Linked DNA regions of Homo sapiens. The protein of the gene in region 1 purifies or fractionates together with the protein of each later gene. This does not show direct contact. Each region holds a gene or a part of one and is shown in the gene's direction. Other genes may lie near its edges. The genes, in order: GNPNAT1 and MSRB2.

Region 1 (3,915 bases):
CGGGGAGGGCCATATGCTTAAGATTAGTGGTGTGTACATAAGCATTTTTTTAAATTTTTGTTTGTTTTGAGACAGGGTCTTGCTCTGTGGCCCAGACTGGAGTGCAGTCTTGCAATCATGGCTCACAGCAGCCTCTGCCTCCCGGGCTCAGGTTATCCTCCTACCTCAGCCTCCTGAGTAGATGGGACTACAGGCACATGCCACCATGCCTGCCTAATTTTCAGTATTTTTTTTTGTAGAGACAGGTTTTTACCATGTTGCACAGACTGGTCTCAAACTCCTGGGCTCAAGAGATCCACTTGCTTAGGCCTCCCAAAATGTTGGAATTACAGGTGTGAGCCACTACGCCCAGCCATGAGTGTTTATTTTATTTATGCCTTACATATTCTTTTTTTTTTTTTTTTTTTTTTTAGAGACAGGGTCTTGCTCTATTGTCCAGGCTGGATTCAACCTTGTGGGCTCAAGTGATCCTCCTGCCTCAGCCTCTGGAGTAGCTGGGACTACGGATGCATACCACCACATTCTGCTCATGCCCTATATATTCTTTTGTATGTATGGGTGTAAAAACAGAGATAAAAACAGAGATATGGATGCCATCAACTCACTGATGTTTGAAGTTCTGAGAAAGCATAAATCAGTAAAGGAGTTAACTGAAATTTAAATCTCACAAATGAGCAAAAAATATGATTTCTGGTATATGATCTATGGGGTTCTTTGAATACTATTGCTTAAGAATAAAATACTTTGCGATTTCAATAAATTGAAAATTATGGTACAAGGCAAGGAAGGGGAGCTACTAGCTATGAGACTTTTGTAAATTATGTAACATCTCTGAACCTCTGTTTCCTCATCTGTTAAAATAGGGACAAAGTGCTACTTAGGTAAGACACTTCAGAAATGGGGCTCTGAAAAAAGTCACTTTTCTTCTCCTAACGAAAGGTTTCTAAACCTCAGCACTCCAGACATTTCAGGCCAGGTAATTCTTTGTTGTGCGGCGCTGTCCTGCGCACTGTAAGGCGTGAAGCAGTATTCCCGGCCTCTACTCACCTGTGCCCTCCACCATCTGTAGATTCCAATGACATCTCACCCCAGATGAGAGGCTGAAAATGATTCATACATTGCCAAATGTCTCCTGGGAGGCAAAACTGTTGCAGTGGAGAACCGCTGTCCTAACCCCATGTTCATCCAATAAAGGGTTTGAGGGACTGAGAAATGAAACAATAGTCCCGAAGGAGTAGAATGCAGTGGCCCCAACTCCTAGTTTCATGAAGGCAGGAACTGTGACTCAGAGGCCTGGGGATGCGGAGCTCTGAACTGCCAGCTGGTAGGAAAAGTCCTAATTAATGGATTGAATCATGAAGGGAGGGCAACAAGGAACAAATGGAGAGGGCCAGTGGCCGAGCCTTCGGTCTCAGGATCAAAGAGGCCCACACTGGTCACCACTTACGCTGCTGGGCTGACTGCTAGGTAGACGTATCTGCAGATAAACCGAGACAATGACGCGGTGGGAAAGGCCTTGGGGAGCGAGGAGGAGGAGCCGGGAGAGGCCAGCTTTGGTCCGGCGGCCACCGCCCCAGGCGCCGCGACTCGAGCCTCAGGCCCCGCCCCTCGCCCTCCTGGTCCCGCCCCCGCTCTCCGAGCCCCGCCCCTCGCCCTCCTGGTCCCGCCCCCGCTCTCCGGGCCCCGCCCCTCGCTCTCCGGGCCTGGGCGGGTGGCGCCTTGGCCTCCGCCTCCGCTCGCCTGCGCGCGGCCCTGCGTGAGGGGGCAGAGGCGAGGTGGAGGCGTTGGCGCTGCCACGTCTGGGCCGCGGTTCCCAACTGTGGCGCGGGCGGTGGAGGAGGAGGTGGGGCTGGCGCTGAAGCCGGATCCGGATCCGGTGCTGTGCACACTGGTGGGGGAGAGTCCGACGCGCCTGGCTAGGAGCGCCGACCGCAGGGCCTCTACGGGTGAGGAGGGACCGGGGCCGGGGCGCGAGAGCAGGACCGTGTGTCCTGGGGGCTGGGGCGGGCCTGCCCTCAGGTTTATCTAACAGGTGTGTCTGGTGCCCCGGCCAGGCCCCCGGGGGTGTTGTGTGGAGGAGCTGGGCGTTAATCCTCGCCAGCTGGGTGCACATGGTGTGGAGCGCGGTTCCCAGGAAGTTGAACGCACGCGCGCCTGGAGCAGAGGTTAAGGATGATGGCCAGCGGTCCGGCCATACGCTGGTCTTGGCCTGGCAGGGCTGGAACTGGGACTGGGGTCGGAACTTCGCTCCCCAGACTTTGGCGTGGGAAATGAGACAGTTGGTCGCGCTCTCTGCAGCCATCGGTTTTGAATGGGCACGAACGTCCCAGGCCCCTTCTCTTCTCCCATTCCCGGGCGCATCCCACGGTGGTCGGAGCCATTGAGGCAGCTGCTCCGAAGACCACCTCCGCACCGAGTAGGTCGGCGCTTTCCCCAGGGTACAGAGGGACATTCTTTGTCTCTTTTTCCTAGGCTCCTACCCCTAGAAATACCGAGTACTGTACTGTGATTTCTGTTGCGGGAGCTGATGTTTATGTAAGCCAAACTAATTTAAAATTTTCATACAAAATTGAACGGGCGATTATAGGATTCGTTTTGTTAGGATAATCCCTCATGAACGAATCCTAGAATGGATCTTAAGAAATTAATTTAGGCAGGATTTGCTAAATAGGGGAGAGAGCGCTAGCTGTATGGTATGATGATGTAAAGATTGGGGTCTGTTGAGGATGGTAATCGAGCTCAAGATGCGAAAACGAGGATTCTAGCCCCAAGTCACTTACTTGCTGTGTTACCTAAGGGGCAAGTCTTGGGAGTTCCAGGTGCTCCAGCTTCCTCATCGGTAGACTGGGAATAACGCCTAGATTGTAAAGGTCAAACTATCAGAAAATACTTTTGAACATTCATGCAGTTACACAATTTAATAAATATGGCCAGGTGTGTTAAAAATCTTTAACGGAATAGATTCAGAATGGATTCTTGTTATCGAAATTGTTATAAAATGAATATAAAGGAATCCGAAGTCCGCCCCTCCCCCATTCACCTGTACTTAGAAGGTTCCCCAGGAGCTCTTGAGAAATACATAGGCTGGTTTAGATTTGGCCTTAGATTGTATTTTTTAAAATTTGTAGATCGACTTTTAAAATCTTCATCTCCGGTGTCTATTACTTGTTGCTCTCCGTTGGTTGCTTCTAGCAGCAGCCTCTCTCCCCATTCGTATTCCAACCTGATACAGAGGCTCAGACGCCAAATAGTTGAAGTTTTGTTTAAAAAATATTCAATTGAGTGAAAAAATATTCAACTGATGTGATGACTAGTAAAAATGAATTTGGTGTATGCTTTCCGCGATATTGTGGCAGTTTGGGAATTTTTTTTTTTTTTTTTTTTTTTGTCCTTCTGGATTTTCTGAAATGTGACCTACAGGTAAGTCTTATTCGTTATTCATTCACTAGGCATTATTGGGCTAGGGTTAGGCTTAAACGGGTCTTCTAAACGCCTGCTAATTTAGCAGTTAATCAGAAAAGGTTCTGAGGAATACTTAAGGAGGATTAGTGTTTAAAGTTCATCTAAAAACTTTAAAGAACCTAATGATATGATGAGATTCCGCTTCACACAACTGTGCAATTTTATTCGCAGAAATTTCCTAGTTTTGCAATATCTGGGCACCTGAAGATGCTAAAAGATTATTTATATAAAATTACTTATTTAATTATGTTCTAAACCCCCTTGGAACCAGGTTTCAAGTCATATCTTGCTTCACTTTGCCCAGTACCTTAGTTGGGCACCAGCAGAATTTTACGGTTTGAGGACAGAGTGAGCTAAAGTGGGCCTTCAGTATGGCTCTGTTTTGTAGAATAGCTCATAAAAAAATTTTTGATGTTAATTTCTGATTGCCTGGTTAATAGATTCTTATTTCAA
Region 2 (3,815 bases), on another chromosome or scaffold:
TATTCCTTTTCTCTTACTGTATGTTTGTGGACTTTAAGCCACTCCTCTTCATCCTCCCCCTACCCCCTGCTTTCCAGGGTAGGAAACCCCCTTTCCAGGCTCTGTTATCCATTTTTCCACTCTCTACCTCCATGTGTTCAAATTCTTTAGCTCTCACATATAAATGAGAACATAGTGCCGCGTTGCTTAACAAGTGGTCTGTCTTAGACCCAAATATAGCTACTGGAATGTAGCTTTTTTGAATTGAACTTTGTTATTAGATATTTTTACTAGTGAAGCAGATCCCACAGAGTGGACCCCAGCCCTGTGGCTTCAAACATAGTAGAGTATGAATGTTTTTTCCTTTGTCAGCACCTGCAAAACTCATGTCACTACCCACATGCACTGCCATTGTAATCATGGTCTCACCCTCAGTTTTTCCAATGCTAAAGTCATCAGAAGGGCCAGCACATTCCAATAAAGTCCCCTGAAATGCTGGTATTTTTGAAAACTTCCTGTAGGCGGGATTTTACTAAAGCCCTTGTTGGGAAAGAGACTACATTAGCCATTTGTGTAGACTGCACAAGGGAACCACATGATACTCTGTGAGCAGTTGTATGTATTCCCAGAGTATTCTAAGCCAACCCTAATTCTCAGGTACAGAGCCAGGCAGGGCTTGGTACATAGACAGACCCTAGAGATGAGCTGCCAGATGTTTAGGAAAATAAATCTGTGGGCTTCTCAAACAGATGGTGCAATATACTCTCTGCATTTGGCCATTTGACAAAATGAGCATCATTCATTATTTTAACTAATGTTATAAATCCCTTTCCATGGATCCATTTCCACGTTTAACTTTTTAGAGTATTGCAGAAATGTAAGCCTTCATTAGCTTTGTTCACCTAAGAGAAGAGAAATAAAACATCGAAGGCTTCTCTTTGGTGACTCTAAATTAAAATTCCCTCCCGCATGTTTTTTCTTGGGCAACGGTAATGTGCTAGCACTCTGCTAGACCAACGAATAAATTTACAGGATGGCTGAGCAATAACTGAAAGTCAAGTATCAATAGAAGGGAGGTTTTGTGCAGGTCATTCTCTGTCTACTCTCCAGATCCACTCTCCGCGGGCTCCCCTGCTCTGAGCTCTAGGAAGAGTGAGCAGCTCCCTTTCCCCCAGCTATTGATTCAGTTTAGCCAGTGGGAGACAACAGTGAGATCAAAAGGTGGGATGGAGAAATCGCTAGAGCCCAGCGTTCTCTCTGTGGGGCTGCAGGATGGCAGTGGCTGTGTTCCTGTACTGCAGGTGGCCCCTCTTGTAGGCAGCCCTCCCCTGCAGGTGCAGCCTCACCAGGTTCTGGCCACTCCCTCTTCCTTTGTCCCACAGGCCTAGTGGAGGCCATGGCTTCTCAGAGTCATTAGCCCAGGGATGCGTTGCCCTCACTTGTGGATTTCCATTGGCCCCGTCTGCACCTTTGTAAACAGTCCTGTGTGAGGTTATCTGCAGTCATCCCTCTTGAGTGTGTCATCTGTTTCCAGCAGGTGCGTTGTATTGACAAGATGGAATGGTGAACTGCCATTGGTCCAGCAGACCTTGCAATCCCAGGGGAATCTTGAACATCATTCTCTCTCTGACCCTGGCCCCTCCCTGTGCAGCCAGGCATTTCAATTCTCTCTTCTAAGTATTCTTGAATCTCTTCTCTTTCTTTTATTTCCACTGCTCTGCCTGAGCAGGAGCACACTCCAGGCCTGCATGTGTGATGGAGGTCGGATTGCCCTCTGCCTCTGGTGGCATCTTGCCCCATTCCAGCTCATTCTTTACCTGAATGTCAAGCGATCTTTCTAAAAACCAACTCCAATCAGGCGTACACCCAGTTCACAAGTTTCCAGTAGCTTCAAATTTCCAGTAGGACACAGTTTAAGCTGTTTGTCGTGATCTAACCAACCCCATCTGGCCTGGTCTCACCTGCCTTCCGGCATCATCTCTCTCCATCCTCCTCTTTGCCCTCTTCTTTCATGTGGGCCTTGACCAAGGTATTCTGCCTGCCAGAAATACTCTTCCATTTCCTCATTCAATTAACTCTTACTCTTCAAAAGTCAGCTTAGTGTTGGCATTTTTCTATAATAAACAACCATCAGTTGTGCAATTTAGAATAATAATAAAAGGTTAAGAAATAAAAAGACTTCCTCCCATCTCAGATAATATCTGATACAGTCAGCCTTTGTGGAAACTCCCCCCTTCGTAGTGAAGGGTACAGCGCTACCCGAACTCCATGCCATCTCTATCATAGCTGTCACCACATGGTATAAATTGTCAGCTCACGTGTGTCTTCCTCCCACTTAGGGAGCAAATTCTTTGAGTGCAGAAACTGTTTTGCTGCCCACCTCTGCAACACTAGCACCCAGCTCAGCCTGGGTTTATATTAGATTATCATGTCAATACTAGAAATGAGATAGAAGCTGAGTTTAACCCTAAATAAGTTACAGGACTTGTATAAAATTGGAGAGGGAGGGAAACATCAGGAAGCTAGGCAAGGAGAGAGTGGGTAGATGTCATTTCAGAAACTATGTTGGCTGAGTATTCCTTTTCATTGATTTTTTTTTTTTTTTTCTTGAGATGGGGTTTTGCTCTTGTTGCCCAGGCTAGAGTGCAATGGTGCAATCTTGACCCACTGCAACCTCTACCTCCTGGGTTCAAGCGATTCTGCCTCAGCCTCCCGAGTAGCTGGGATTACAGGTGCCTGCCACTACACCCGGCTAATATTTTGATTTTTAGTAGAGATGGGGTTTCACCATGTTGGCCAGGCTGGTCTTGAATTCCTGACCTCAGGTGATCCACCCGCCTTGGCCTCCCAAAGTGCTGGGATTACAGGCATGAGCCACCGCACCTGGCCTTCACTGATGTTTTAATTTTTATTTTGCTTACTGTGATAGCAGTTATCTATCACTTCCTCTGTCCAGCTGCCCCCCTGCAATAATGAAATTATGTTTTGAGTCTTTCCAGGCTGTCTGGATCCTATGAAAAGGCTTTTCTAGATCAGCCTTAGGACTGGCAGTCCTGTTTTGCATGCATTCATCTTCAGCCCAGGTGGGAAGGATGGGAAACTTCCTCTTTTTTTTTTTTTTTTTTGAGATGGAGTCTGGCTCTGTCGCCCAGGCTGGAGTGCAGTGGCACAATCTCGGCTCACTGCAACCTCTGCCTCCCAGGTTCAAGCAATTCTTCTGCCTCAGCCTCCTGAATAGCTGGGATTACAGGCGTGCTCCACCATGCCTGGCATTTTTTTGCATTTTTAGTAGAGATGGGGTTTCATCATGTTGGCCAGGCTGGTCTTGAACTCCTGACTTCAGGTAATCCACCTGTCTCGGCCCCCCAAAGTGCTGGGATTACAGGCATGAGCCACCACACCTGGCCAACTTCCTCTTCTTCACAGCTGCTAACTAGTGCCAGTGTTGGAAGCAGGCATTTGAGGGGACCGGCCATAAAGGACCAGCTCACTACTGTTTGGATTTCTGCAGCTAAGTTTAGGGTTTTAAAGAAGGAAAACATCCAAGTGTACCCAGATGGTAGGCTCAGTAGGTTAATTTGAAATTGTCTTTTATACAGCTCACTGCAAATGTGCTGTTAATACTACCACAGGGAATTTGGATGTTTAAACTGTGAATTTTTTGAGTTGGGAAGCCTGGAGGGATCTGAAGATTTCCTGAGTCAGCTTTGTCACTTGGTGAGCTGTTCTGTGCTCTGGCTTTCCTCTGGCCCATAGGAGGGGACAGTGCCTGCCGCCAGGCCCTGTGATAGCGGATCTTCATGGTCAGCTTGTGCAAGGGTTGTTTTTTATTTAAT

The links.
Region 2: the proteins of GNPNAT1 (region 1) and MSRB2 purify together in Homo sapiens (affinity purification with mass spectrometry; one large-scale study listed by BioGRID and IntAct). This does not show direct contact.

Annotation. Positions count from the first base shown.
Region 1 is NC_000014.9:52,789,459-52,793,373, reverse strand, and holds the start of GNPNAT1 (glucosamine 6-phosphate N-acetyltransferase), read left to right. Parts: upstream 1-1,766; 5' UTR 1,767-1,946; exon of another isoform or gene 1,947-2,416; intron 2,417-3,915.
Region 2 is NC_000010.11:23,105,390-23,109,204, forward strand, and holds part of MSRB2 (methionine-R-sulfoxide reductase B2, mitochondrial precursor), read left to right. Parts: intron 1-3,815. UniProt on the Homo sapiens protein: Methionine-sulfoxide reductase that specifically reduces methionine (R)-sulfoxide back to methionine.